Linked DNA regions of Homo sapiens: regions 1 and 2 are each linked to region 3. Evidence: fine-mapped expression QTL. A gene starts in region 3. Each other region holds a variant in brackets. All regions are shown on one strand. Distances are from middle to middle. Region 1 overlaps RAB3GAP2 (RAB3 GTPase activating non-catalytic protein subunit 2). Region 2 overlaps RAB3GAP2 (RAB3 GTPase activating non-catalytic protein subunit 2). Region 3 holds the start of RAB3GAP2 (RAB3 GTPase activating non-catalytic protein subunit 2).

Evidence for each region. PIP is the estimated chance that this variant, and not a neighbour inherited with it, causes the effect.
Region 1: its variant is fine-mapped to the expression of RAB3GAP2 in whole blood (INTERVAL, PIP above 0.99).
Region 2: its variant is fine-mapped to the expression of RAB3GAP2 in fibroblasts (GTEx, PIP 0.93).

Annotation. Positions count from the first base shown.
Region 1 is chr1:220,187,408-220,198,219 of GRCh38, forward strand. It overlaps RAB3GAP2 (RAB3 GTPase activating non-catalytic protein subunit 2), which reads right to left. Exons shown (of 35, transcript NM_012414.4): 10 at 8,843-8,991; 11 at 7,891-7,970; 12 at 7,671-7,760; 13 at 5,833-5,972; 14 at 3,661-3,877; 15 at 2,970-3,113; 16 at 2,657-2,739; 17 at 2,296-2,360. Among named protein-coding and RNA genes, the nearest start is that of MIR664A, 7.8 kb to the right of the region's middle. The variant CCATT/C (reference allele first, on the strand shown) is at 4,952.
Region 2 is chr1:220,175,431-220,186,242 of GRCh38, forward strand. RAB3GAP2 (RAB3 GTPase activating non-catalytic protein subunit 2) reads right to left here. Exons shown (of 35, transcript NM_012414.4): 18 at 10,221-10,311; 19 at 8,606-8,733; 20 at 7,288-7,501; 21 at 6,827-6,924. Among named protein-coding and RNA genes, the nearest start is that of MIR664A, 20 kb to the right of the region's middle. The variant CT/C (reference allele first, on the strand shown) is at 6,661.
Region 3 is chr1:220,266,997-220,277,808 of GRCh38, forward strand. It overlaps RAB3GAP2 (RAB3 GTPase activating non-catalytic protein subunit 2), which reads right to left and starts at 5,457. Exons shown (of 35, transcript NM_012414.4): 1 at 5,227-5,457. The coding sequence starts at 5,341. It also overlaps the pseudogene AURKAP1. RefSeq lists enhancers at 270-1,469, 3,551-4,052.

The DNA of each region.
Region 1 (10,812 bases), 80 kb before region 3:
AAGCTTCTTTTTTTCTAATGAGGCCACTCATGGCAGGCTCCTGGAGAGCTTCAGAATAAGGGGGTGGTTACCAGTGGAACCAACCATGTATTTGAGGATTGAAACTTTTAGCCCAACCCCTGACCTCTGGGGAGCCAAGAGGAGCTGGAAGACTGAGTTGATCACCAATGGCCAATGATGTAATCAATCATGCTTATATAATGAAGCTTCCATCAACACCCAAAAGGACAAGGGTTGGAAGAGCTTCTGGATAGCTGAACGTGTAGAGGTTCCTGAATAGTGGCTTGCCAGGAGAGGGAATGGAAGCTCTGCAACCCTTCCCATATGATTTACTCTATGCACCTCTTCCACTTGGCTGTTGATCTCTACCCTCTGTAATATCCTTTATAATAAATGGGTAAACGTTCAAGTAAAACGTTTCCCTGAGTTCTGTGAGCTGGTCTAGCAAATTCATCAACCGCAAAGAGGGGGTCATAGTAACCCTAATTTATAGCTAGACAGTCAGAAATATAGCTGACAACCAACTACTTGTGACTGGTACCTGAAGTAGGTAGAAGTCTTGTGGGACTGAGCTCTTAACCTGTCGTGATGATCTCATGCTATCTCCAGGTAGATGGTGTCAGAATCGAACTGAATTAGAGAATAACCAGCTGGTGTTAGCTGGAGAATCTGCCAAAGAAATTGACTGGTGTGTGGGAAAAAAAAAAAAAACCCTACATCTAGTGGCAGAAGTGTCGAGTGACTGTGTAAGAGAAAAGAAAAAACCTGTGATACAGTTTTTTCTTACATTTTCACAGTAGCATTATTTTAGATGCTGTGAATTATAAAAATCAAGTATTTGGTAAGGTTCCTACTTGAAGGAGCTTAAAAGACCTAAAGAAAAAAAAGTCGGGGAAGCTATGATTAACATACATGAAATAATTAGAAAATAAGTAGTCATTAACTATCCAGTTTTGATTGAAAGTAGAGTAGGAGTTCAGAGTTATCCATGGGGATCGAAGCATTATGTAAGAATTTGTGGAGTTAGGACTTGAATAGCATTATGAGGGGTTTGGATAGGAGGAGTGGGAGTAAAAGAAATCACCAGTGGTGACCATATTATAACCACGAGCCTGGCAAAAAGTAAAGGTCTGGCAATACCATGGAATATTGAGGCTGTGGAGTAACAGGGACTCATACAGAACAGGTGGGAATATAAATTAGTACAACTATTTTGGGAAACAATTTGCCATCAACTAGTACAGTTGAAGAAGCTCACACCCTAGCAATTCCACTCTTAGGTATAAACGCCAGAGAGACTCTTGCATATGTGAATGAGGAAATATGTACATGGATAAGCATAGCATCATTTGTAATGTCAAAAATCTGGAAACAACCTAACCGTTCACTGACAGGAGTGTAAATAAATTCTAGTCAGTGAGCAGAATTTGTATGGCATAGTAAATGAATCAATTATAACTATAACTACATACACCAATATGAATGACACAGAAACATAATCCTGAAGGAAAAACTAAAGTCACAGAAGACATAGGGCATGACTGCATTTATATAAAGTTTGAAAAGGCAGGAAATGCATCAACAGGTTTCAAAGGAGCCACACAGGAATGACGTAACTATAAAGTAAAGAAAAAGAAAGAACCACAAAATTCTAAATTACAGTTACCTTAGGGATGGGAGAAGGGAATGGGACTGAGGGGGGACACTCAGGGCTCTTTAGAGTTCCTGGTAAGATTTTATTTCCTAAGGTAGGTGGTCATACACACATATTTACTATTTTATATATATAATATATATAATGTAGGGATGTGTAGGTATGTGTATATAAAACACACTCAGATGTATGGCAACCCAGGCTGGAGTACAATGGTGCAATCTCAGCTCACTGCAACCTCCGCCTCCCAGGTTCAAATGATTCTCCTGCCTCAGCTCCTGAGTAGCTGGGATTACAGGCGCCCGCCAATACTGACCCAACTAATTTTTTTGTATTTTTAGTAGAGACGGGGTTTCACCATGTTGGCCAGGCTGGTCTCGAACTACTGACCTCATGATCCCCCTGCCTCGGCCTCCCAAAGTGCTAGGATTACAGTTACAGGCATGAATATTAATTTTTTTTTTTTTTTTTAAAGAGACAACAGGAACTTCTATCTGAAAATAAAGAAAGGGATAAACAATAAAAATGTGAAAAGAAGACTTCAGCCTCTCATGTTTGGGGGAAATAGGAAAATAAAGATTTTCTTAAGAAGGATGTATTATAGCTACTAGCAGGAAAGTTCGTGTATTATATACACTTACTTGTTTTTTGGTTGCAGGGTATTTAATATCAAGAATTAATTCCTTTATTTCTGTTTCAACCAAATCTATAAAGAAAAAAATAATCAAAGTAAAATTTTAATTTTTATAACAGTGAAACATTATTCTGAAAGAAAATGAACATATCTGTACTATCAGTGAGTCTAAAGGATTTTTGGGTTCTCTCACATTAATGTTTTCTTGTTATGAATTATAACACCCTCTAGATGGCACACTTCAGCCTTACAGAGCAATTCCAATAAGCTCATCCATGCATTATTTTGATTGCTCCATTCAGAATATTTTATTGATTTAAAAGATGATAGAACAATATGCTTTATTATTTGTATGAGAGAATACCTACCAAGATTGGGAGATTTTGTTTTCAGTAAGGCTGCTAGTTTCTTCACTAGGTGCATATCCTTGGCTCGTTCACTCTTCTTATCACTAAACCAATAAATATAACAAATTATTACAGAATGTGAAATTATTTTCTTTCTAATTCTGACACACTCCAACTTTTTTTTCCTTTATATATTTCCTATTTAACTTTAAAGATATCAGTCTAAAGACAAAGGAAACAACAAAATAGCAACTACAAAAGAGAGTACAACAAACCTAGGAACTAGGAAAAGTTAGCAGAGGAGCGTCAATCAGCAACACTGGACACACCTTACCTCAGTGCTAAATGGAAGGGAACGTTCACTGTTTTCACACTTCCAGACACTGGATCAACCAGACAGATCTGATAAGTCTGTGGCTGCCAACTCTGACTGGTAACATTATTTAAACCCATTATTTTATAGCCAGGATACAGCAGCCTAAAGAAATCACATACCAATATGGTAAAAATATTAGAACAAGGAGAAATGCCAAAAGGTGCTTTTATTATAGCTAGGAAACCCAACATTATTATCAATTTAGGAGCATTAATAAGGCAACTAAATACTGATAGCAAGTACATAAGTAAAGCAGGGCTCAACCAGCAGAGTTCTGCCTTGTTGAAAGATTCTAAAAAATTAAATGAACACAATCAGGCCCCTGTTTCAATGGCAAACAAAGCATTCACCTCACTTATGACTAGGGCAAAAGGAACCTTTCCTTTTGAGCCTTCCCAGCATAAGTAAGGGACAAACATTAGCAACAAGCTAACTTTAATTCAGCAGTCTATCATGGCATTTTTAATTTTTTTTTTTTGTTATTAAATACTTAAGTACATGCCAGGCACTCACAGGAAAAACCACAATAAAGAATATTGTAATTCTCAAACTTGTAATCTAATAAGCAGCTTTAGTAAAGCTTTATTTTAATAAAAGCATTCCTATATTTCATTTTGTAACCAGCACAATGCCAGCATTTGCAGCTTACCTGCAGTGCTTCCCCACATTGAAAGCTCCTACTCTAGGTCCCTGCTGTGTGCTCCACACTTCTAAAATTCCCCTTCTTGGCGCATAGATCACAAGGAATTGAGCTACTCGACTTGGACCCTGAGAATTTCCAAAGGGGGAAAAATCTGCCTTTTCTGGCACTCTTTCATGGAGGTCCTCTACAGTTTGAATCCATCCAATTTGTGCGTCGCGGTACCCTTAGAGACAGAGGTAAAGGGAAGTTAATTACTTAATCTAGGTTCCATAGTAGCCTCCTGAAGTACTCTGGAATAGTGGGGGTGGGGGTGGGGGTGGGGTAAGAAAAGCTATAAAAGTATATTTTTTATTATGGAATATCTTAAATAAAAAATGATAATAAATAATAACCAGTCTATCACCCAGCCTTATCAAATCTTACTATTTTGCTATATTTACTTCTGACCACTTTTTCTCTTTAAAAAGAAAATATTGGCTGGGCACAGTGGGTCATGCCTGTAATTCCAGCACTTTGGGAAGCTGAGGCGGGTGGATCACCTGAGGTCAGGAGTTCGAGACCAGCCTGACCAACGTGGTAAGACCCTGTCTCTACTAAATACAAAAAATTAGCTAGGCATGGCGGCGCATGCCTGTAATCCCAGCTACTTGGGAGGCTGAGGCAGGAGAATCAGTTGAACCCAGGAGGTGGAGGTTGCAGTGAGCCCAGATCGCACCATTGAACTCCAGCCTGGGCAACAAGAGCGAAACTCTCTAAAAAAAAAAAAAAGAGAAAAGATTATAGATATAATTGAAGCCACCTGATTACCCCTCCTGCTCTCATTCCCTTCCCTTCCCACACAAGCCTTTTGGTGACATGCAGATAGAAAATATGGGTTACAGGACGATGGGAGGAAGCTCTTGCATGGGAGACGTAGCTGATGCTATTTTCCATTTTAGGGTGGTCCCTCACATAGGCAATTGATCCTTCTTTCCAAGGACACAATGGAAAGAAAAACTGGCTGTACTAGCTGCAGACAGGCAATGATGCAAGGAATAAGATTGCCATAGTGGATTTGGAGCAGTCAGTACAGCTTCGTCTTCGTATTTTAGAAAAGTCTTGCTGAGAACATACCTTTGATATTGTTTCAGAAGACAAACACCAAGGAGAAATGATGTATCTGCAGTATTAAAACTATTTCTACAGATACTGAGACATGTAGTAGGTAAAGACTGCCTCTGTCTATCACTGCAGGAGTTCTTTGGCAAGAAGGTGATAGTGGCTTCAATCTGGTCCAGAGTAATTGAATGACCTCAAT[CCATT/C]CATTATTCCTCACATTTTACAGGATAGACAAGATTGCACCATAAATTGTGGTCTATGCTGACATGTTACTATTCCAGATGATTCTAAATAATGTAATCATCCCTTCTTTCTTAGTCAGGGAGATATTATTCACAATGTGCCTAGTTAAAAGATATTTTCAAGTCTCCCTTATAGTTAGATGAGGCCATGTCACTAAGTCCTGGCTAATGTAGATAATGGTTGAAGGGACTTCGGGGAATATCTTCAAAGTAGATTGACTCAGTTGCCAGGAGAAGCCTTCTTCCTTTCTGCTTCCTTCCCGGAATGCAGATAAGAGGGCTGTCTATGAGAACCTTGAGTGGGGAAGCTACAAGGAAGAAGACTGGGTTCCTGAAGATACTGTGGTCTGTTACTCAGGTCTGTTAATAATAGCTGAAGGAAACTCCTAAGTGACATACTTATTGACACACCAGGTGGATTGACCCAAGCATATGGATATAAAAGTCAAGTCAGTGAAGATGGGTTTTGCTATCTTAAATCTGAAAGACTTGGCATTATAGATTTGGGGAGAACATTTGGCTCAAGAATGGCTTTGTGAAGGGGAATAAATGTAGCAGGGGCAAGAAACTGAACTCAGAAATTGACAATAACAGTGAGAATTGAAAGAAAGTGCAAAAGGCAAAGGTTAAACATGGCTATGAGGTGATCAAACCTAAAAGATGTATCAACTGACTACTGGACCAAGTGGTTGCTGATCTGAGTTCATGTCAAAAAAAGAAAATGTAAACATGAAGAATTAAACAGAGTTATCATCCAGAAGCTGAAGGATGATAACATTGCTCAACTATTGGGGTAAAAAGTGAATTAATTGTTTTTCTGGATTTTTGTAAGAAGTACCTTTCCACATGCGTATTGCAATTCCTCTAGCTACATCCAATAAAATAACTCTGCCGAAATCATCTGTTACTGCTGCCAGTGTGTTACATGGAGACAGACATATGCTTTCACCATGGCGTCTAGAATCTGGAAGTCCAAATCTGATATTTAAAAGAAAATAAAATGCTCAAATCACATTCCAGTTCAGAAACATATAACAGAATAACGAAATGCATAAATGAAATAGGCTGAATCTGTTTTTATATAAAGAAATATGAATTTTACCTGGATTAATAGTTAATTTATTAATCACAACTGACATTTGTAATATAAAATACATAAAAGAAATAAAACCACAGTCCTATGTAGGTTTTCAATAGATACCCACAACCCTATACCTTTAGAGAATATAAAGTATAACTATATTTGATTAAAAGGCATGTCACAGAAAACAATGTCCTCACCATCAACTAAATTTTAGAATATGCTCCCACACAGGCATCTTTTGTCTATTTTAAATTCTTCTTCTTAATCTTTCTCTTTTTTGCAAGATATGACATCCTGCTGACACCAATCTGCCTGAAGCAAAAACCTTCCTTTTTCTAAATAGTTATCTCTAAACTTCTGTTGTTCTATAATCAACCTCATTAGAATTGTGAGTAAAATAAAAGTAAAGAAGTACTAAAAGAGAACTAGGAAAGCTCATTTAGAGAAAAGTCCCTGAAACAAAGGTGCCCAACCTTTGTTACATCTATTAGAGACGCACAGGGCCATGTGACTAATTTATTGACTCTTGATATTAGGAAATGTGATATGTTACAATGTATTTTTTAAAAAGATGAAAAAAAACTTAGAAGCTATACTTCGATAAATTTTAATAATTAGTTGGCTCTTCTTAGGTGAAGAACATCCATAAAGAGGAGGTGTTCTATTTCCCTTCATGGTGGTACTTTATATTAGGTAATAAAAAATGATTTTAAAACAAAACCAAACATTAGAAAACATGCTCCTATCTAAAAAATAATAATGAAAAAAAAAAGCAACAAAAATCATGCTCCCTCCACCAAAAAAAACTCACCAATATACTAACACATTCTAAAGCACTACTGAAGTAAACAAGGAAGCACAGGACAGGAGTCTGTTTAAAGAGTGCCTGAATACAGGACTCCTGCTTTTACTTTTTTTTTTTGAGATGGAGTTTTTCGCTCTTGTCCCCCACTCTGGAGTGCAACAGTGCAATATCGGCTCACTGCAACCTCTGCCTCCCGGGTTTGAGCAATTCTCCTGCCTCAGCCACCGGAGTAGCTGGGATTACAGGCACATGCCATCATGCCTGACTAATTTTTGTATTTTTAGTAGAGACAAGGTTTCACCATGTTGAGCAGGCTGGTGTCAAACTCCTGACCTCAAGTGATCCGCCTACCTAGGCCTCCCAAAGTGCTAGGATTACAGGCGTGAGCCACCGCAATCCACTAGGATGACTTTTTTAAAAAGAAATCACTAAGTACTTTTAAAGTTTATACAACTTAGTAACAAACTATCTAAACTTTTAAAAGAAATTTAACAGCTATCACTGAATTAATTCTCCTACAACTAAGCTAAGTTTATTTGTTAAAAAGCACACTCAAGAAATACATCTTGAATACCTAGTATATAACAGGGATAAAGCTGTGAACAAAACAGGTAAGAATCACTCTTCACATGGAGTTTTACATTCTAGTGGGAAAAGAAATTCCACTGTAATGGCTTTCAGAAGTTCCAAAGACAAGATCAGCAAATCAACCAAGCACACGGAAAGACCATACATTTAACAGTACCTTTCTAAAAGGACTAAAATTTGGGAAGCATGACAGACTTGCCTTACAGCTAATGGGGTAGCTGGCTCAACCTTCGGCTTTTGCTTTTGGACAGCTTCTTCTTCGTGCTTACTTTTCCAACCAAGCCAACCACTGAAAAGAAAGAAAACTTAGAATATAAAACTGAGCTTCCAGGGTTTTAAAGTGCAAACTATCAAAATATAAGTTAAAAGCAAGCTAGATACAAATGAGATATTTGTTATTTTAATTGTTAAGTAATTACCTGGCAGCATTAAATAAAGCAGAAGTGAGTTTACTTGCAACTGCTAGTGCAACATGGGATAATAATGGTTGTGTGCTTCCCTGAAAAACAGAACATTTGAAAGAGAAAACTTAGTAGCTTACAAAGAAACAAACATACTTTCTAAATAAAGCTTACTTTAAAATGCTTTGAAAAGTTGTAAAGGCTGGACTAGCAACTCAGCTTCTTTCAGAGTACAGTAAAAAGTTTATTTTAGGCGTAATATGAGAAAAAGTTTTAACTCTATAGTTTAAAAATAAAATCACAATTAGTCTATTTTACCATTAGAATTTCTCTCTTTAAATTGTAATTTCATTCAAATAAATTTTAAACTAGGACATTAAGATTACATTATTCTAGCTGGACTATGGATTTCACACCTACACATAACTGGCTCCTTTCTCTCTTTAAATATATATATATGCACACACATATACACACACACATTTTTATAAAAGTAAAAAGATATTTTGGACAATTCTGAGAAGCATGCTTTTTAAGTGAGAAACAAGAGCTGCCAAATCTAACACTCAACTTTCCACTATTTTAGGAAGCAATTTTCACCACTTATAACAAGTATAGTTGGCAGCTTGTTCTGTCTTTACAACTCCTCATTTACTCAAATCCCTAGTGGGCTGGCATCATTAACAAGCCTGAGCTCCTGACTATTGCACCAATATTTAAAGACATCTCAGCTATCAAAGAACTCAGGGCTTCAGAAACAAAGAATTTCCTTTTATACTGATGGTAGTACCTTTTCAGTTAATCTAAAGAATTTAGAAGAAAGCTAGTTGAGATTAATTTTAGTTTCAATTGAAATTTAGAAATGTAAACTGCTTAATCTTCTAAGGCTAAGCAAGTTACCATATCCAATTTGTAGACAAATTGTAAAATCAAGAGCAGCCTTACTCATGATCATTGATAAAACTCATACCTCTAAAGCATAGAAGAAGCCAGTAAATGGATTGGACCCTACAGTGATATACTGAGACATGGCAGGTGGACTATTTTTAATTGCTGCATTAAATCCACCTATATTGGAGGCAGTCTTCATTTGATCAAAGGGGGACAGAGTCATAATACCTAATAAAAAAAAAAAAGTGATTTGAATGTACAATGTTATTGCGGTCATTACATTTTTACTTCAGTTCCATTCTAAGATGCTAAATGTTTAGTTTTATTTAATAACCAAAAGTCATTTTAAAAGCTACAAAGTCAACATCAGAAAATATTCTGCCAGGCATGGTGGCTCACTCCTATAATCCCAGCACTCCGGAGGCCAAGGCAGTTGGATCACTTGAGGTCAAGAGTTTGAAATCAGCCTGGCCAACATGGTGAAACCCCGCCTCTACTAAATATACAAAAATTAGCCATGCATGGTGGTGGGTGCCTGTAATCTTAGCTACTTGGGAGGCTGGGGCAGGAGAATTGCTTGAACCTGGGAGGTGGAGGTTGCAGTAAGCTGAGGTCACACCAACTGCACTCCAGCCTGGGCAACAGGGCGAGACCCCATCTCAAAAAAATAATAATAATAAATATTAAAATTTCCATCTATAATTTCCATAATCTATAGAATATCATAAAAACAAAATTTAATTTTTTGAACAGATATGAAACTCAGAGGTACCAGAAGTATACAGTCCACTTATATCCCCAAATACCAATTCACTTCTTTTTTTTTTAGTTTTTGAGATGGCGTCTCACCCTGTCGCCCAGGCTGGAGTGCAATGGTGCAATCTCAGCTCACTGCAACCTCTGCCTCCCAGGTTCAAGCGATTCTCTTGCCTCAGCCTCCCCGAATGGCTGGGATTACAGACGCGCACCACCATGCCCAGCTAATTTTTGTATTTTTAGTAGAGACGAAGTTTTGCCATGTTGGCCAGGCTGGTCTCAAACTCCTGACCTCAGGTGATCCTCCAGCCTCAGCCTCCCAAAGTGTTGGGATTACCGGTGTGAGCCACTGTGCCCAGCCAATATAGGCGTGTGCTGCTGTGCCTGACCTTACTAAATTTCATATACATATATTTCAGGCCTCCCCTTTGCCTGAAAACTGTCAAAAAATGCATTCGTCCTTAAGACGTGTCCTAGGAAAGGAAATTCTTTGAGTGAGTTCATACGCAAGCCATTCACTGGCTTTATAGGAATTAAAGTGATCAAACAAATCCTTGGACTATTTTTTAAACTCCCCTCCCACCTCCTAGACCATTATAAAAGATCAGAACACCTATCTCATAGTCATGAATGAATCCATGATTCAGTATACAAAATGTTTTCACTACATTACAAAATTTGCTTAAGTTTTGCCTGACTCCACCAAAACACGATCAAAGGGCAAACTATATGGCACATAAATTGAAATTTAAGTTTTAAAACAGCTTCTTTTTAAACTCCCATGCAATATACATGGGAGTATAAATTACTACACAGTAATCCAGAGGACAATTTTGCAATAGATATGCAATTTTTTTAAAGGATTCTAATTTATTGTAAGGAAATGGCTGATCAATCCTTTCCATCCTTGCTACCAATGATGTTTTCCTTCCTATAACTTAAATCATCTATTTTCAATGTCACACTTTAGATCCTGTCATCAGCAACTGTAGATTCTTTGTATTTTTGATTTCAAGCTTACCACACTTAGACCACCACCTCCTAGCTTTCCATCTCAATTACTCCAGAAACTCCCTGCAGTAATTTCACAATTTCGAGTTTAAACTAATTAATCCTACTATTTTTTCCACTATTTATCAAGTACCTCTTGGGATCACTTCCCTTTCCATCCAGCTTAGCTTTGTGTTCCATCATCATCACTTTCTTGCAAATATCCACAACCTCCCTACACTCGTTTCCCCCTACACACATACTCCTCTGGCTAAATCTTAATCTTGGTTGACCTAAACTTTC
Region 2 (10,812 bases), 92 kb before region 3:
CTGGTCTCGAACTCCTGACCTCGTGATTCGCCCGCCTTGGCCTCCCAAAGTGCTGGGATTACAGGCGTGAGCCACTGCGCCCGGCCGGAATACCAGATTTCTAAACATACCTATAGATTTAATGTCTCTTAAAGCTTGGTTCATTTCCCCATCAACAACAAAGTTTCAAAATGCTCATCAAAATTGGCAGCCAGAAGTTTATTTTATATTAAGGCAGCCAAAAAAATTAAATGCCATGCCTTGGACCTCTCTTCACACTATGAATTCCACTTTTCTCTCCAACCAACCTCTCCTCTACCCACCATCACTTGTAATAAAATTCTGAAACAAACAAAAAACCTGCTCTGCTTAACTTTGCTTCTTATTTCTCCCTAGGTTACCTCCTTCTATTTCCCACCCTACAGGTAGTCTCTGTTTATAACCTAGAGTGTGTTTTTCCTGTTTTCTATAAACATTAAAACTTCCAAACAGTCAAGCTTTTGTTTGTATATAGGAGATCAGTATAAAATAGAGGATGCCAAAGAAACTATCAGAACATAATCATATAATTGTAGAATCACTTATAAGCAATATAGATATTTTAAATTGCAGGAAACATTAAGATGAAAGAAGAAAAATAAAGAAGTGAATACAGAGATAAATTAAGTTACCACATAGAAACACATATATGGACACATATAACAGGAGAAGAGTCTAGTGTATAAAGGTAACTACCTCCATAACTAGTAAATACAAAATAAGATATTCTAACAGTCACAACAAAGAATGCCACATTACATTATTCATAATATATTTATATTATGAATTCACATATTAAAATATTAACTGTTATCTCACATATAAATATGTTATATATTGACATATAACCAGATGATGTCTAAATAATAGATTTTGAGTAACAGAAACCTTGAGGTCACCAAGATGGCGGAATAGAAGGCAACCTACTTATATTCTCTCACAATAAGGTGGTTGATCTGTCCCCCTGAACTGACTTCCAGATTGAAGCCCAGAAACAGCCCAGTCCCCACAAGGGGCTTGGCTACTTCCCTGTTTGCCCATGATCCTGCCACCAAAACCATTTGCCATGGGGTCCAGAAAGAACTGTACACACTAGTGTTTTGGCAGAAAGGCTAGTCTGCCCGCTAGCACTGGTCTCAGCAGTGGGCTGGAAAGTAGCCTTGTGGTGCTGCTCTCACCTTCCTTAGCTGAGGTCCCAGCTCAGAGTTGCTTGCATAAGGACCCAGAGGCAGACTCACCCATATCTCTCAGCCCAGGACTCAGAGCCTCCCTGACAGGCTCACCAACCTCTATCTCACAGCAGATCCCCCTCAGGGCCCCCTCACTGCAGCTGGAGAACTATCCTATCTGTGCAGGAACTTGCTGAAGACACATGCCTCTCTGAGCCAACATGAGACACACCAGCCTCCATTCCCACAGCTGATCCCAAGAGGGCCCAGTCTCAGCTCAAGCCCCTCCTGTTGCAGTTGAGGAATTACCTCACTTGTGCAGGAACCTGCTGGGCGACACATAACCATCTGAGCCAACAAAACAGGCCCCCCAGCCTCCTTTTCACACAGATCCTAAAGAGGTCCAGTCTCACTTCTACCCCCTCTAACTGCAGCTGGGGACCCATCCACCTGTGCAGACACCTGCTGGGATGCATACCTGTCGGGGCCACCAGGACAGACTTCTGGACCCAGGTCCCTGGCCAGTATTCCCAAATAGCCTCAGTACCCTCCTTGGGTCTTCCCCCAGTCCATGAAGGATAGAAAGCCACATAAACTTCAGAGCTCTTGAGAGACCTGCAGCAAGCCTGGGCTTAGAGTGATGTCAAGTGTTGCAGTGGTCACAAGCTCAGGGAACATGAAAGTCAGTCAGCTTAGAATCCCTGGAAGGCCCTCTGAGGAAGGTCAAGTACAAACAAAGCCAGACTGTGAAGACTAAAGTACATACCTAATATATCAATGCACAATACCATCGTACTACCACAAGCATCGAGAACATTCAGGGAAACACGACCTCACCAAATGGACAAAGAAAGGCACCAGAGACAGAATCTAAAGTGAGGGAGATGTGTGATCTCTCAGACAAAGAATTCAAAATGGAAGCTCAACAAACTTTAAGAAAACCCACACAATCTATTCAAAAATTTATCAGAGAAATTTTTAAAAGGTTGAAATACTAATGAAAAAAATCAAATAGAAACCTCGGAGCTGAAAAATAAATAAAATTAAAAATGCAATATAGAGCATCAATAGCAGAATTGATCAAACAGAAGAAAGAATCAGTGAATTCGTTGATAGACTATTTAAAAATACATAGTCAGAGGAGAAGAAAGAAATGAAATGAATGAAAAGGAATGAACAAGGTCTATAGGATCTATAAAACAACATCAAAAGAGCAAATATTGGGGTTACTGGAGTTAAAGAGAGAACTGAGAAAGACAAAGGAGTAGAACGTTTACTCAAATAAGTAATAACAGAAAACTTTCCAAACCAGAATATACAGGTACAGGAAGGTCAAGGGTCACCAATCCGAGTTAACTCAGACAAGAATACTCCAATTTACAAACTCATAAGGGTCAAAGACAAAGAGAGAATTTAGAAAACAGCAGGAGAATAGAAGCAAATAACATATAAGATAGATCCAATATGCTTGGTAGCAGATTTCTCAGCAGAAACCTTACAGGCCAAGAGGGAGTGGGGCAGTATGTTCAGAGTGTTAAAGGAAAAAAACTGCCACCTAAAAATACTGTACGTGGCAAAGTTATTCCTTAGAAATGAAAAAGGGAAATAAAAGATTTCCCGAGACAAACGAAAGCTGAGGGAATTTACTGCTATCAGACCTATCCTATAAGAAATGTGTGATTTCTTAGACACTAAAGGGAGTTCTCCAAACTGAAAGAAAATGATGCTAATGTGATTGTCATACTAATATTCTAATCACGGTGCTTAAACCACATATATCTTTAGTAAGAAGACTAAAAGAAAAAACTATCAAAAAACTGACAATTTGTTAAGAGACAATAACATAAAATGATGACATCAAAAATGCTAAAATGGGGGGAGAAGAGAGTTAATGCGTATAGGTTTTCTTTTTATGGTTTGTTGGTTTTGCTGTTTTGTGATCAAAGTTAAGCTGGTATCAGTTTTAAATACTTGTTGTAACTAGATTTTTTTTGTAAGCCTCATGGTAATCACAGTGCAAAGCCTACAATAGATACACAAAAATCAAAAGTAGCGAATTGAAACATACTACAAGAGAAAATCACTTAACTATAAAAAAAAAGACAGAAAAAAGAGAGGAGTTACACAGCAACTAATAAACAAGTAACAAAATGGCAGTAGTAGGACCTTACCAATCAATAATAACACTGAATGTAAGTGGGCTAAATTCTCCAATTAAAAGACACAGAGTGAGCTGGGCACAGTGATATGCACCTATAGTCCTGGCTGACTGGAAGGCTGAGAGGAGATAATAGCTTAGGCCCAGGAATAATAATAATAAAAAAAAGACATAGAGTGACTCAACAACATAAAAGTGTATACTGCATACAAGAAACTCACTTCACCTATAAAGGCTAACATAGACTGAAAGTGAGGGAATGGAAAAAGATATTCCATAAAAATGAAAACCAAAAAAGAGCAGGAGAAGCTGTACCTATATCAGACAGAATAGACTTTAAGTTGAAAATTATAAAAAGAGACAAAGGGGAGGCTGAGGCAGGAGAATAACTTGAACCTGGGAGGTAGAGGTTGCAGTGAGCCGAGATCATGACACTGCACTCCCGCCTGGGCGACAGTGAGACTGTCTCAAAAAAAAAAAAAAAAAAAAAAAGAAGACAAAGATGGTAATTATACAATGAAAAAAGAGTCAATTCAGCAAGAGGATCTAACAATAGTAAGTATATATGCACCCAACAATGGAGCACTCAAATATATAAAGCAAATATTAATAGATCTAAAGGGAGAGACAGACTTCAATACAGTAATAACAGAGGTCTTCAACCTCACTTTCAGGAATGGACAGATCTTCCAGGTAGAACATCAATAAAGAAAGATCAGAGTTAAACTACATACTAGACCATATGGACCTAATAGACATTTATAGAACATTTCACTTGCTGCTGCAGAATACACATTCTTTTCATCAGCACATAAAACATTCTCCAGGACAGACCATATGTTAGCCACAAAACAATTCTCAACAAATTTTAAAAAGTCAAAATCATGTGAAGTATTTATCTGACAACAGAATAAAAGTAGAGATCAGTAACAAGAGGAACTTTGGAAACTGCACAAATACAGATATTAAACGACATGCTACTGAACAACCAATGAGGCAAGGAAGCAACTAAAAATAAAATTTAAAAATTTCTTGAAAAAATAAAAATGGAAATACAACATACTAGAACAATGGGATGCAGCAAAAGGAGTGCTAAGAGGGAAGTCGGCCGGGTGCGGTGGCTCACGCCTGTAATCCCAGCACTTTGGGAGGCCGAGACAGGCAGATCACGAGGTCAAGAGATCGAGACCATCCTGGCCAACATTGTGAAACCCCGTCTCTACTAAAAATACAAAAATTAGCTGGGTGTGGTGGCGCATGCCTGTAGTCCCAGCTACTCAGGAGGCTGAGGCAGGAGAATCGCTTGAACCCAGGAGGCGGAAGTTGCAGTGAGCCGAGATCGCACCACTGCACTCCAGCCTGGTGACAGAGTGAGACTACGTCTCAAAAAAAAAGAAAAGAGGGAAGTCTATAGTAATAAACACCTCAATAAAAAGACTCCAAATAAACAATCTAACAATGCACCTCAAGAAACTAGAAAAGCAAGAACCAACCTAAAAATTAGTAAAAGAAGTAATAAAGATCAAGCAGAAATAAATGAAATTGAGAATAAAAAAATTACACAAGATCAACAAAAAAAGTTGTTTTTATTAAAAAAGATAAACAAAATCAACAAACCTTTAGTTAGACTAAGAAGCAAAGAGAAAAGACTCAAATAAATAAAATCAGAGACAAAAAAGAAAACATTACAATTGATACCATAGAAATACAAAGGATCATTAGAGACTATTATGAACAGCTTTATGCCAACAGCAGTAGAGAAACAGAAAACCTCAACAAACCAGTAATGGGTAACGAGATGGAAGCAGTCATAAAAAGTCTCCCATCACAGAAAAGCCCAGATCTGATGAATTTCCTGCTGAATTCTTTCAAACATTCAAAGAAGAACTAATATCAATTATACTCAAACTATTTCACAACATTGGAGAGGAGGGAATACTTCCAAACTCATTCTATGAGGCCAACATTACCCAGATACCAAAACCAGACACATACATAATAAAAACAACACATTAAACCATCAACAAGCTCACAGAGGTAGGATGCCCAAATCCTGGCCAAAATATAACATGTAAATGGGGGTGTGTGAAAGAGTATGCAGTTGGCCCTCTGTATCCATGCATTCCACATCTGTGGATTTAATCAACTGTGAGTCAAAAATATTCAGAAAAAAAAAGATGGACGGTTCCATCTATACTGAACATGTACAGGCTTTTTTCTTGTCATTATTCCCTCAACGGTACAGTTTTAACAATTTACACATTTACATTGCAGAAAGTATTATAAGTAACCTAGATATGATTTAAGGTATACAGGAGATGTGCATAGGTTACATGCAAATACCACACCATTTTAACTTTTTTGCTTTTTAGAGACAGGGTCTCACTCTATCACCTAGGCTGGAGTGCAGAGGTGCAATCAGCACATCCTTGATCTCCCTGATTCAAGGGATCCTCATGCCTCAGCCTCTTGAGTAGCTGGGAATACAGGGACATGCCACCATGCCTGGCTAATTTTTTATTACACCATTTTTTATCAGGACCTTCTGTATCCATGGTTTTGGTAATGGAGGGGGAGGTTCCTGGAACCAATCTTCCATGGGTGCTGAGGGACAACTGTGTATGCATGCATGTGTAGGGGATAGGTAATAACAAAGAAGAACAAGGAAGATGGGGTAACTTTCCTTGTTTTTTTCAGAAAGGGTAAAAATTTAGTGTTGTATTTCCTCCTTGGATGATTCTTTTGTTTTATATTTGTTATATTAGAGATTACATTATAATATATATTCAAAGTCTGAAAATGTTTGGTAACAATTCCACATTGCTTTATGGGAAGCTTATTTTGTTTTTAAGATATTTTTCATTGTAACATGACAGTTTTTTACTGATGATCCAATTCCACTGTAAATGCACGCATATAGATGGGTGCACACAGATTCTAAACTTATTTTAGGCCAACTATACGATATGCTTGTTAACATTTACAGAAAATTGGCCAGGCATGGTGGTTCTTGTCTGTAATCCAAAAGCTTTGAGCGGTCATGCGGGGAGGATTGCTTCAGGCCAGGAGTTTGAGACAAGCTGGGCAACATAGCGAGACCCCCATCTCCACAAAAGTAAAAAAAAAAATTGCCCAGTAGTCTCAGCTACTCAGGAGGCTGAGATGGGAGGATGGCTTGAGCCCAGGAGGTTGGGGCCACAGTGAGCGATGATCACACCACTATACTCCAGCCTGGGTGACAGAGCAAGACTCTCTCTCTCTCTCAAAGTAAAAGAAAAAAAAAATTACAGGGTATAAGAAAAATAAATAATATTA[CT/C]TCTATTAAATATGGTGATTAAAATTTTCTTTGATCATTTTTAGAAAGTTTTCATGGACATTCTGTGATATCCTAAAAGACAATAGTTAAAAAAAAAAAGAAGACTGACACTTCTGGGTGACATTCACAAGGAAGAACAGCATCCAGCAACCAAAAAAACCTTACCAACAACAGCTGAGGGCTAAGACCAGCCGACTCCAAAGTGTGACACATATCCTCAGTGGAGCTTTCTCCATGCAAACACTTCCAAAAAAAGAAACTACCTGGTAGAAGAAAAACAAAGCACATTAATCAATGACTACTTACCATTTGGACTAACAATCTTATTGAATCACAATCTGGAATTCCAGAGAAACAAAACATTATGAAGGAAGAGAAATTAATTGTTCAATTTGCTTGATTTATTAAAGCAGAAAGCAAATCATGATCCAATATTGTCTCTTTAGTATACTCATTAATACAACCTGTTGACCAGAGTATCTTTTGTTGGCCAAAAAATACAGTACATTAAATCCTTTCATTATTTAAATTTCAAAACAAATGGAATCTCTGAGATGCTATATGTTCCTACCATGTTTTCTTCTAAAAGAAGAGGCATACAAAGACCAGTGTATTATTTTACCTACCTAAAGCCACATATTCCTCTTCACTTATTTTCTTTATGTTGAGCACATCCTTTTCATATTCTAAATATTCCAAGAATGTTTTTACAGGCAACACACCATCTTTATCATCAGAAAATCGAACATTTGTCCTGGTGTTCTCTTGCTTATATTTCTCTAGTAATGCCTGGAGCTTAAGCAGTTCTTTTTCATCAAGCCTTAGTAACAGAGCCAAGTCCTTTAAAACAGAAAACAAAACAAAACAACATTCCACATCTATCACCCACATTATCTGAACTGAAATTCAAGGCTGTAAGCAAAAGTCGACTTTTTAATTAATATAATACCTATCATGTATTCTGCTTAAAACTTTACTTACAAATCACGTTTCATGAGTAGGAAGTTATTTAAATAAAGTAAACTATAATTTTGAAACACTGCATGTTTGGTACCAAACCAAACATGGTACTAGAGGTAGGTACTAAAAGAAATGGTATTAAAAGTACCATTTTAGGATATTTCTTGAGGGTACTTTATTATCTTCTAGAATGTTAGCATTTTTTTTTTTTTTTTGAGACAGGGTCTCACTTTGTTACCCAGGCTAGAGTGCCTTGGCACAATCATGGTTCACTGCAGCCTTGACTTCTTGGGCTCAAGCAATCCTCCTGCCTCAGCCACCTGAGTAGCCGGGACCACAAGTGTGCACCACCACATCCAGCTAATTAAAAATTTTTTTTTTTGTAGAGGCAGGGTCCCACTATGTTGCCCAGGCTGCTCTCGAACTCCTGGGCTCAAGTGATCCTCGCACCTCAGCTTCCCAAAGTGTTAAGGTTACAGGTGCAAGCCACTATGCCTTGGCAAATGCTAGAATTTTAATAAACATGTATTACTGTATAATCAGAAAAAAATTTAAAAGGGTGTCAAACGCAACTCTTACTATTCTGAGGAAACTAAATATTGAACTTAAATGCTTAATTATAAAGCAGCGTAAACACTATAAAATAAAAACATAGAAAAATATTCTCATTGTATCTACATATAAGTCCTGTATGTGGCTCTCAGGGATACAACCTGCTAGGCTTTCAAACTATTTTTATATACTATATGTACAAAAACATATCATGGCTGGGCATAGTGGCTTATGCCTATAATCTCAGCACTTGTATAAATAATATAAATATAGCAGCAAAGCACAGAGAGCTAGCAGGGGGCTTGGTAAGGAAAATATACCTTTAAAGCTTTAAAAAAAATTCTTAATTTTCTACTTCTTTACTACTAATTTTAAAAAGTAAAACTAATCAAAGAGATTATTTTATATAATATAAAATGTGGGATTACTCACATTATCAGAGAATGGTGTGTCTAAATGAAAATCAAGGGAATTTAATTGACTGACAGACTCATAGAGTTGCAGCAGTTTTAGTTTATTGGCACAAAACTGTAGCAATCCTTCATCAACAGACTCAAGTTCTAAAAGGCAGAAGGAAAAGTATATATAAGAGATATATTTAACAGACTCATAAACAGGCTTTGCTTTCATTAAATCTCTCAATATTATGTAATTCCCTGATGCTCTGATGTATTAAATACTGAGATGCTTAAGCTATACCAGGTTTTGAAAGCAAAAATAATTTTTCTGTCATGACAAAATGTCTAACTTTTTAAATAAAATAAGATGCTCTAAAAGTAGGGAGATAAAAAAGGAAGCGGAAATATCTTCATCTAATACTTAAAATTTAAAGAAATTATCTGGAAATACCTTTGAAAATATTTTCCCTGACTACATAATTCATATACTGTATGAATATTTATATCTAATATAAAAGAAATATTTATTCTTTAAAAAGGGAGACACTGATAATCCCCTCAAAATCTTATTTGAAATACAGTATCATGGAATATTGTTCAAGTTCTTATAGCCATAATAAAACTGACCACACAAAATGATTAAAGTTTTTAGGAATCTTATGTTTATGTAGAACTTGAAACTGATGATTTTATGGAATTCCAACAATGGTGTTTGGTTTACTACCAGGCCAGTGGAAGATAACTTTTCATTTAATAAATTTTGGGATGTTGTGAATGCCTTGAGGGGTGGGAGGGCTTTGTAAGTATACCACGCTTTTTAAAAGAGGGATTTATTTCTGACAAGTGGTGTATGCTAAAGGAGTTCACTATTTGCCAATGTCAGTTTTATGTATCTGTTAAAAAAAAAAGGTTGAAAAAGAGTCTCAAAATTAGCATGTTTGAAGTCCTGAAAGAACAAATTATAATTTGTGTATTAAGCCACTTTAAGCTGTCTTACACACAACTAAAACACAAAGCTGGTTTTACATAATTAATATGACAAACAAAAGTCACAACTAGATGACATCAGTCCACTGCACACAATTTAACTGATGTTAGGAATTCAGAATAAAGTGAATTTTTACTAGTTCAGTTGGATGGAATATGGTGTTACAACCCCACAGTTTCAAGTTTCAAGTGTAATCCTTTTTCAGACAAATACATTTTGACGGACTGATGGATTTTAAAGAACAATGTGATAGTACAGACAAATTTTGAATATCAAAAAATGACCAGAAAATTCAGAAATAATAATCTGATTGTTGATTGTGATTCTGGAAGTCCTTAACTCTGTTCACGAGGGAAACTGATACACTGATAGAACATTAATACAAAGCTATATCAGAATAACCACTTATCATTCTATCCTGACATCTTTCCTCACAATTAAAAACAACTTCCCAATAACAGTCAATACATTCAAAGACAGCTTAGATGAAGATCAACTACATATATTAAATAGGGAATAAATAAGATTCTTAATTTCTTATATCTATATTACTTCCACATTAAAGTAACATGATGGTATCACAAAGTCAATAGCTTTCTATAATCAGAGTTACAAAATTTGAGTTAAGAACATAACCTCCAATCAGTACAAACCCTATTACCTTGACTTTTTAAAGTGTCCATTAAAGTCTGAGTGATGTTTCTAAGGCAAGAAAATGGTAAACGTTCACTTGCCAAAATGCTTTCCAAAGCCTAGGAGAAAGATATTGAACAGTTCTAGTAATTATAAGGCAGTGATTTTGTTTTTTAAATCTTATATTTATGCCCAAACTTTCACTACCCCAAATTTCAAAGGGAAGCTCTATATTTAAGATGTTTTAGTGTACATATATTAAATCTCAAGTTGCGTTGTTAAGTAATATACAATCAACTTCATGTCATGCCAAATATGACATAAATGACAAAAATCCAGGCTGAGAATAAAACAACTAGAAGGCAACTGCTACTTAACAGAATAGCCAAATCAAAACAGAAACAAAGATAAAGCTATTTACCAATAAGAAGAGTTTGAATATGCCTATACTATATAGGCATAAACGAAAAGCAGAGGTTATTGTCATGTCAATAACAAAAGCTGCCAAAAACTTAGTTATACCTTAATTATTGCATTTGTGCATGGCAGGCAGAATCTATAGGCCCTGCTAGATGAATACAGTACCCACCCTTCCCTACCTCCCTCTCCCCACCCCCATA
Region 3 (10,812 bases):
ATCATGCATCCGACCTTCAATCATTTCGGGGGGCAGGTAGTCCAGGGTGCCACAGAGAGTGGTCCTCCTGGAAGATGGAGCATGTTCTGACCACCCAAAATTTGCAATTTCAAGCTCTCCAGCTGATCCAAGAAGTAAGTTCTCTGGCTTAATGTCTCTATGAATAACTGTTTTTGAATGACAGTAAGACAGGGCACTTGCCAATTCTGTGATATAAGTAGCAGTTCTCTGCTCATCAAACTTTGAAAGTTTCTGAAGTTCTGTATTGACTGTTTCAAGTGGTGTATATTCCAGAATTAGGTAGACTCTGGTGGCATCATGGAAATAACCATACAGTCTGATTATATTAGGATGTTGGAGGTGGGACTGTATTTCTACTTCTCTTCTGAGTTGATGCTCCACTCCTGCTTTCTCCAGCTGAGCTTTAAATAACACCCTAAGAGCCAGAATAAACTTGCTTTGTTTTTCTCTTGCCAAATAAACATTACCAAACTTTCCTTTACCCGGAGGGCGACCAATTTCAAGGTCTTCCAAAGCCCATTGCCTCTTTTTGATTCTTCATTTTTCTGTTTTGATGCCAGTTCCTCCTCAGGATTATTTTCAGGTGCCGACAGCGGGGACTGCTTGCTGTTTTGGGTGTTATTCAGTGGCCTGGAGGCAGGATGAGGTACACTGGTTGCCTGCAATTGCTTCTGCTTCTGATTCTGAACTGGCTTGTGACTGGAGACAAGCTTTTGTGCTTGCAAAGGAACACGCTGCGAAGAATTTGAAGGACACAAGACCCACTGAGCCTGGCCACTATTTGCAGGTAATGGATTCTGACAAGGAAATTGCTGAGTCACGAGAACATGTTCTGGACCTCCAACTGGAGTTTTAGCCTCAACAGGCCCTGAAATGCAGTTTTCTTCAGATTGGTCCGTGATGCCTATGACCCAAGGACCTGAGTCTTCCAAGAGCTCAGCCCAATAAAAGCACTTTTAAACCAACTGATACACCTCTATAATTCACAAGTAATTGAGGTGTTTTATGTTTTTACATATCCTCTAGAGATGAGCTAGGTTAAGAAATTACAACTATATCAGCTAAAAAAATTTAAGATGATCTCATGATTTCTGCTTCCCAATAAACATTTATAACATTAATAAATAAAGTGAAGAAAAGCAAAGGCAAATACCATCAGCAGTTTAAGTCAGGTCCTATTTACCTGCTCTGCTAATGTCATTTTTTCTCTGTAAAATTTCACTGTACAAAAGTTTACGTTCAAAACTCTTTATATTACGGCTTGGCCTAGACTATCTTAAAAGTGCTCAGAACACTTACATTAGCCTATAGTTGGGCAAAATCTTCTAACACAAAGTCTATTTTATCATGAAGGGTTGAAAATATCTCATGTAATTTCTTGAATACAGTACTTCTTGAATACCGTAGAGTACAGTCTCTCATATTTGCTGCTGCTACCCACCATCACAAAAGAGTATCTTACCCATTGTATCACTAGCTCTGGAAAAGATCAAAGTGCAAAATTTGAAGTATGGTTTCTACAAAGTACACATTGCTTTCACATTACTGTAAAGCTAAAAAATTGGAAGCCAAACCATCATAAGTCTGAGATCATCTGTACAGGTTTTACAAAGGGGCTCACTGGTGAAGAGGTCCATTCTGTTCATTTTCTACATGAACTGATCATAGCCACAATAATATCAACATACATAAACTCAAGAATTTGATTTAGAAGAGAAATACATTAAACCATATTTATAAATCTATAGGTATAGTGCAAATTAATCTAGATGTTTGGGGTGTATTTATATCCCCAACTGCCTATGTAACTTGGACAAGTATTCAATCTGTATGTACCTGAGTTTTAGCACCTATAACTGTGCCATACTATATTATAGGCATTAGCCACTTTGGCTACTTAAATTTAAATTAATTAAAATTAACTTGAATTTTAAAAATTCAGTTCCTCAGTTGCACTGGCCACATTTCACAGGCTCAATAACCACATGTGCCTAGAGGTTACCATACTGGACAGTAGAAATATAATGATGAAAATAAACAGGATGATATGATTGAGAACAACAAGTAGGAACAAGGGGGTTGTATTGACTACTTTAGATCTAGATCAGGTGGTCAGAAAAGGCTGCCCTGAGTTGACATTTGAGCTGAGACTTGAATGACAAGATGCAACTAGCATGCAAAGATCTGCAAAAAGCATCCAAGGCATAGACAACAGTGAGGGCAAAAACCTTAGCCACAAATGTGGTTGGCTGGTTTAACAACAAAAAAGAGCGTCTGAAGCATAAGAAATAAGGGGAGAGGTGTATAAGGTCCAAGAAATGGCAGGAAGCAGAGTCTCAAGGGCCTTATACACCATTTAAGAACTTTGGATTTTACGTTAAGTGCAATCAAAAACCATTGAGTGTTATTAAAAGGGCAATGTTAGGCTGGGTGTGGTGGCTCATGACTGTAATCCCAGCACTTTGGGAGGCCAAGGCAGGTGGATCGCAAGGTCAGGAGTTCAAGACCAGCCTGGCCAACATAGTGAAACCCCATCTCTACTAAAAATACAAACATTAGCCGGGCATGGTGGCGCATGCCTGTAGTCCCAGCTACTCAGGAGGCTGAGGCAGAAGAATTACTTGAACCCAGGAGGTGGAGGTTGTAGTAAGCTGAGATCATGCCACTGCACTCCAGCTTGGGCAACAGAGTGAGACTTCATCTCAAAAAAAAAGGCAATGTTGTGATCTAAATTATGCCTTAAAAGCTCACTGTAACTACTGTTGAGAATTATTACAGGAAACCAAGAGCAAAAGCAGGAAGAATTGCTAGAAGAAGACACATATCATATCATAGCCCAGGTTGAGAAAAGATGGTGGCCTGGACCAGGAGAGTGGTAGAAGGATAAAGAAAATCTGTTCCTTTTTTCTACATTCCCTATCTACAATCCTGCATCTGCTATCCTTCACAGCCAAGCTCCTTGAAATAGTATATTTCACTTTTTAACCCCTTATCCTATAACTATGCTTTCTGCCTCCACTATCCTACTGAAACTGTCCTAAGGTCCAAGTTACCTCCACCTTCTCAAAACCAATAAGCATTTTTCTATCCTTTTCTTACCTGACCCCTGCTGCATTTGCAAAACTGCTGACCATTCCTCACCCTCATCAAGTTCTCGCCTTCCTCAGCTCCGAGGGCCTTACTCTCACATGATTTTCCTCTTTCTTTTACTCCTTCTCAGTCTTCTTCCCAGTAACCTCTACTTGACTTTTAAACACCAGTGCTCCTCTAAGCTTACAGCTTTAGTACTCAGTGCATTTCACAACATACATAATCCTTGAGACTGAACTGACACTTTTTGCTGTTAGCTCCCCAATTAACATCTCTGGCCCAGTACTCCCTACTGTTTAGACTATCTATATCTGGTGTTCAACCAGATGTCCTTACTTGGACATACCATAAACATTTAAAATGCAAAAGGTTGAAAATCTGTATCCTTCATTCTCTTATTACATATAGTTGCCCAAACCACAAGCCAAAGACTTCCTAAACTCCCCCTCACTTACTAGTTACAATGCCCATCACCAGACCTTCACAAGGTCCTGCAGATTCTAACTCCTTAACGTCTTTCTAATCTAGTCCTTCATCTTCATCCTACTAAGGTTCTTAATTCAAGCTCACATAATTTCTTGCTTGGATTACTGGAAGAGCTTCCCAATCCATTTCCCTTCTTCCAATCTCTCCTCCACTTTGCTACCAGAGCACATTACAGGTCTTCAACAAATGTTGTTGATTACATTAAGTACAAATCTGACAATGTCATTTCTCTACTTAAACTTTCAGAGAAACGCCACAATTTTCACAAGGCCTCTCATGGTCTAGCTCCTTATTACTACTACTGCCTCATTGCCCCAACTCTTCCTCTCCCATCCTCCTCTCCAGCCATTCAGCTTTTCTTAGTTCTCTAAATACCATGCCATTTCAGGCCTCCCTTCCTCTGCACATGCTATTACTGCTCCTTTACTCCTCTAACTAGTACTTCAAAGGTAGGCTTAAGTATCACCACTTCAAGAAAATGCCTCATGTATATCTCAGTCACACTGAATGGAAGTTAATGATTTGTCTGTAAACCAGAAGTTCCTACAGCAGGGTCCACCAACCTTATTTGGTTTGTAGCACCAATGACTGGCACAAAGTATGCAATCATTCACAGATGGGTTCGATTTGATATCTTCTAAATTTTCTAAAAAAGGGAGAGGAGCTTAGTGGGCTTTATATCACCATTCCGGTATAGCACAAAGTGAGAGCGCTGTACTACAAAGCCAAATGTGCTTCAGGTTGGAAATGCAAAAATAAAATAAAATAAAATAAAATAAAATAAAACACAAGGCACACCCTTTCAAAATGAAATGTACGAAATTCTGAAAGCCTATATAGTATCTAATAAACCAGCCTTGGAACTTTATACTACTTGGGGAAAGGCTTATTAAACACTTTGATGATAAAAATAGGTGGAAGGCTTCAATAAAGCAAATTAACCTTTCTTGGCTATGTCACTGTAATTTTAGTTCCTAATGTAGATTCTCGTTCACTTCCTGACAGGTTATTTTCCTTCTTTGAGAGAGTCTTACCTCAAGAGTCACTCATTTGTCAGCCATTTGTTCTCAAAATCTGAATGGGGGAAATGCAGATGAAAGAAGGGAGAGTGTGGGGGGATGATCAACACTTTCGGAATGGGAGGTAGCAGAAGGCCACAGTCTCCGGGATGGAAGAGAGTGGGAGCTGGGGCAATACCAGAGTGGAGCGCTGACATGTGGCAAGGAACGGGGAGGATGCGATCACGGAGCAGGCAACATGAAACAGGGAACGACCCCAGGCTGAAGATGGGAGACGGAGAAGATACTCAGAGAGAAAGCTAGGAATGTGTGGGGGTGGGGGGAGGGAGGGAGAAAGCGGTGATAGGCAGAGGCGAGAGGAAACAAGACGCAGTTTTTAGCCAGGGGTCAGAGGGCCTAAGGAGAAAAGCTGGGTCGAGAGGAAGACAACACAAATGGGGCTTCAGGACGAGGTGGGCAGGGTGTCATCCCGGAGCGGAGGGGAGGCACGGGGAGAACTGGGGGTCCAGAGGGCAGAGGCAGGAGGCGCAGAGCGAGTAGGAGACTCGAACCCGTGAGCAGAGGCCGCGGGTGACGAGGGAAGGAAGGGCGAGGCCAGAGAGGCACTTACTGGGGTCCCTCCGCAAGGCGCCGCTGAGGATCTCCTCCCGCAGGTGAGGAAAGAGGAAGTCCCGGGCGGCCTGGAGGTCCTGGAAGTAGCAGAACTGGACAATGGAGCAGGCCATGGCTCCAGGGAACCCCACTACGGCACTCACCTTACCTCACCACGCCCTGCCCCCTCCACCCCACTGCGGCCGCCACCGAGCCCCAATAGCTCTAGCCAAGCAGAAGGCGGAGAAACCAAACCGGAAGCTGTCACTGACACGGGTCCGCTGTCTCCGAGTACTGCGCAGGCGCAGGCTGGCCCAGGCGCCTAGGGCGCGGGGGCCCGGGTCACGTGACTACGGCGCCGCCGCTGCAGGTGGAGCCAAAGTCGACGTGGAGGCTTGGGGCAGATTTTTCAGTCCCAGTTGTGTGTCTACGCCGAGGCATGAACCCTTTCATTCATTCTGGCTTTTAGCCAGAGGTGTTCTAATTGGACTTGTCCGCGCAGCCCTTTGACTTATTCAGTCTTATTGGTCCCCTACTATTGGCACGATCCTGATGTTTCACAGAAACTAATTCGTTTTAAACTAGTGGCAGGCCAGTGGGGGACCGTATCCTGCAAGAGTCGGATTTTGAAAAGATTAATTGCTCTTCCGGAGATTAGCCCCGTCAAGGCTGGCTTTAAATGCTCCTACTATAGATTCCCATAGTACTACGCAAGCCCAATATAGTACGTGTTATAGTGTATTATACACTTTTGTTTTCATTATTCATTTGGTTTTTCATTCATGCATTCATCCATCCATTCAACAAATATTTGTTAGTCTTTTAAATGCCAGCCACGCAGGGTGCTGAGCATTAGAGAACAAAAGAGAAGAAGTACCTTTTCCCAGAAAGCTGGAATTCTAGTGACTGATACAGGCAGTAAGCAATTAATTACAGTATTTCCCTTTAATCCAAGGGGATATGTTTTAAGATCCCCAGTGGATGACTCAAACCATGGATAGTACTGAAACCTATGTATGTGTATTATGTTTTTACCTATACATATATATGATAAAGTTAAATTTATAAATTAGGCACAGTGAAAGATTAACAATAACTAATAATTAAATTGAATAATTATGTGGAAAATGAACCCATGGATAAAGGGGGGACTACTGTACTTAACTATTTAACTGAAATTGTGATCATGCTAGTAAGTGCTTCATAAATATTTGCTGAAGAAATAAATGGAATGCATACATAAAGTAAATAGAATAACTTGTTTCTTTGACAAAGCACTATTTTTGAAAGTACTTTACATTGTTCATTTGGATAGTCACAAATGCCATCTAAAAATAGTGTGTCTTATCCCATTTTTAAAATAAAGAAATTGAGCTGTCTCTGAGCAGACTTTAAGTTATTTTTCCAAAAAATAAAAACAAAAAAAATTATTTTAATGTGAGCACAAAGGCCTGTAGGCACTTACACATTTCCTAAAGGAAACCTAAAGAGGCCATCCACTTTGTATGAAAAAAGGGCACAGGAACAAATGAAAGGCAAGTGGATGGGGTCCAGAGCATTCATTTCTGTCAGGCCCGTGGACATACACACTTAGTCCTAATAATATAACAACTATAATTTAGTGCCCAGGTTCCTACTCCATTATTTCCTACTTCTAGAGTAGGATGATTTTCACAAAATAGGATAGGCAATTTCTATGTTATCAGGTTAACAGGAATCAGTTCTTCACCTATAAAAGGCAGTTGAATCAGATGTGCTGTAAGGTCCCTTTAAGCATCAGGGACCTATACTTCTGTAATCAAAGCTTTCAGAAAAAGCAAGCTGCCAGTGCTCCCTTCTTCCATCTGAAGAAATGCAGTGTTTCCTCAGATCATCACTAACTAGAATAATCCAGCCCTGATAAGATTATTCCCTAAAATCCAGCACCAATCCCAAACTAAACCAAAATTTAAATTTAGATTCTTAGTGTTACTGGACGAATAACAAACACATGACACTTTCTGGAAGGAGACTGTCATTCCTTGAAAACCATTCAAGTTCCTATTCAGGTAAATGCATTTTGTGGAAGTAACTGCTGTTGGCTGATTTTGCTGGCCTTTGTTCTTCCCTGAGGCATTCATATGTCTCCTGTGGTGGTCATTGAATTTCATTACTGTGTTGGCTCAGTTTTAATGGTGAAGTCCCTGACTTCCTTCCAAGTACTGTTGAAAAGGATCATTCATGGATGTTTTTAAGGACTTTAGATACCCTTCACAGAAATTACAACACATTCATGAACTGAACTCTTCCCCCAGGAAGTTGTAATGCAACAGGGGGGGATGCCTCTGGAGTTCTGCTACCATGGTTTCTGCGGCATGTGGGAGGATTGCATCAGACAGTGAATATCACTTATTCCACAGTCATAAGAAAGCACATTGCAAAAATGTGCAGGCCTTACATATCCCAGCATTGACAGTGTCTCTCCGAGGTCTGGGTTCAGGAGGTAGGAAAAGCACTGTGACCAAAATAACAACAGGATGAGTCCAGGTACCAATGTGAACTTCCTCCAGTATCCATTAGTGTGAGTCAGAGCACAGATGACTGTTGTTAAGAGAGAGATGTGTTACTGAGGAAGATAAGCAGCAGCCCCTTGCCAATCCTTAGCAGCAGCTTGAAGCGAAGGGGTTGAGTTGCAGGATGGGCACTAAACGCAGATGTGAGAGAAAGAGCAATGGACTTGGAATCATGACTTTGGGGAATTCATGTCACTTTTTTGGGACTTAGTTTCTTGGTTTATAAAATGAAGAGGCTGGGCTCTAAAGTTCATCCCAGGGATATGTAGGTTTTGGTAAGAGACTGGGAATGGCAAGTTCTGGGAGCTGGAATTGCTTAGAAGGAGTGGTCTGTGTAAGCACCCTAGTAAGAAGCTTGGGTCAGCAGGAGAAAATGTGAGGGTACTGGACATCTCTAAGGGAAAGTAAGGGGAGCATAGCAAGGGCGTGGAGAGTCCTTGAAGCCTTACCTCATAGCTGTGCTAAGGGTCATCCTTGAATTGAAGATTGAGCAGAAGCAAGGGCTATTTACAGTTATTATTCAACAAACATTTATGGAGTGCTTTTTACATTAAAGATACTGTAGTAAGCACAGTAAGGCAATAAGGACAAGTGATCCAGAGATTCACTACTTAAAAGCAGACAAACACAAATGCTCTAAGAGCAGAGTGTGATGAGTACCATGGATGGCTTTTGGATAAAGGGCAGTGGGAGAAATAAGGGAGAGATTAATTTAGATCCCTAGGGGTGTCCCTTGGAAAAGAAGTAGTGTGGAAGAGGTAGGAAAGGCATTAAACAAATTGGTTCTTGATTATAGAGAACCTCAAAATCCAAATAGTGAAACCGCCTTTGCAAAATTATGACTGAGATAGTGAAAGAGATGTAACTTAACCGACTCCATCTTGCTTCTAACCTCCAAGCTGTCCTTGTTCATTCTTGGGCGTAAGTTGAACTAACTTTGAGAGAAACTTAGTTTACAGTTTAAACAAAGACGGTAACAGCCTTTTCCCAAAGCAGACCTCCTTCTTACCCGGGGACTAGATTGCCTTCGTAGGACTAACATTAGCCACAAGATTAAAAATTATGGTTTAGGAGTCATGCAGCTGGAGAGTGTGACCCTCCCTAAACTGCTCCTAAGATCAATGCTTGAACTATTTTGTAGACCCTGCACTTGATGGATCAGCTGGCACCACCCAAATCAATAAACTGGCTCATCTGACCTTGTAGCCCCCACCCAGGAACTGACCCAGCACAAGAAGGCAGCTTCGACTCCCTATGATTTCATCCCTGACCAATCAGCACTCCTGGCTCATTGGCTTTCCCCCACCCACCAAGTTATCCTTAAAAATTCTGCTCCCCGAATGCTCAGGGAGACTGATTTAAGTAATAATAAAACTCCGGTCTCCCTCACAACCAGCTCTGCGTGAATTACTCTTTCTCTGGCAATTCCCCTGACTTGATGAATTGGCTCTGTCTAGGTAGCGGGCAAGGTGAACCCCTTGGGCAGTTACCATAGTATGGTCTGGTCTTTTTCTGTGTGCAAGGTATAACCAATTGAAGATATTTTGAAGAAGATGTAGAAGTATGTGGGATGACTGAAGGCAGATAGACCCCTCTAGATGTCACAGCAATATTCTAAACAAGAAGTAATAACATTGGAAAGGCAGTGCCTCTCTGGTGGCTGAATCAATAGAATTTTGGTATACAGTTAGATATAGGTGTGGGAAGGGAAAATATGACCCAAGGTGATGTTCAAGTCTTCAGTCCAAAGAATTGGAAAGGTGGCAATGTCATGTCAGCAACCAAGATAGAGAATGTAAAAGGAGGAATGGCTTTGGGACAAACAAGAATAGGATGAGGCTGGGCACAGTGGTTCATGCCTGTAATCCCTGTGCTTTGGAAGGAAGAGGTGGGAGGAATGCATGAGGCCAAGAGTTCGAGATCAGTCTGGGCAACATAGAGAGACCCCATTTCCACACAAAATTAAAATTAAAATTAAATTGTCTGGGCCTGGTGGTGCATGCCCATAATCCTAGCTACTTGAGAGGCTGAGTCAGGAAGCCTGCTTGAGCCCAGGTTTGAGGTTACAGAGAGCTATGTTTGTGCCACAGCTCTCCAGTCTGGGTGACAGAGCAAGTGAGACTCTGTCTCCAAAAAAAAAAAAAAAAGATAAATGGATAAATTCAGTGTTGGATTTGTTAAATTTGAACTGCCCGTGGAAGAGCTAGGTTTTTTTTTTTTTAAGTTATTTTTATAAACTGAAGTTCCAAATTGGGATTGGAGAGGCCAGAGCTAGAACCTACCTATGGAAGTCTTCCACACAGAAATTATATTGAAGGGAGGGGATGAAAGTGCCAGTGGATTCTAGATGGGGTGAGAGCAGTGAGAGCAGGATTGGATGAGGAAAACAAGGTGGGAGGACTATCTTTTTTTTTTTTTTTTTTTTTTGGTACAGAGTCTTGCTCTGTCACCTGGGCTGGGGTGCAGTGGCATAATCTTGGCTCACTGCAACCTTTGCCTTCCAGGCTCAAGCGATCCTCCCGCCTCAGCCTCCTGAATAGCTGGGACTATAGGCACATGCCACCATGCCTGGTTAATTTTTGTGTTTTTTGAAGAGACAGCATCTCACTATATTGCCCAGGCTGGTCTTGAACTGCTAAGCTCAAGGAATCTACCCTCTTTGGCCTCCCAAAGTGTTGGCATTACAGGCATGAGCCACCATGCCTGACCAACTGTCTATTTTTTTAGAGGTGGATGGAAAAAGAAGCTCTAGTAAAGGAGATAAAAAAGACATAGTCAAAGAAGAAAACTGTACATGGTAGGACCATGCTACAAAAGCCCAGTGAGGAAGAAGACATTTTCACAAAGGGGTAAACCTATTGTATTGAATTCAATAAAGAATTTAAGAAAGGAAAAGCCAAGAAGAGATGATTCCATTTGGTGAATAGGTAGTAACAAGTGATTGTCCAGTGTATAGAGCAGCCAAACTCTGTTTCTTTTGCAGAAAATTTGTAACCTTTCTTCAGAAGTTGATTATTTTTCTGATAGCCAGAGAAGCAATGGTAATCTTTTTC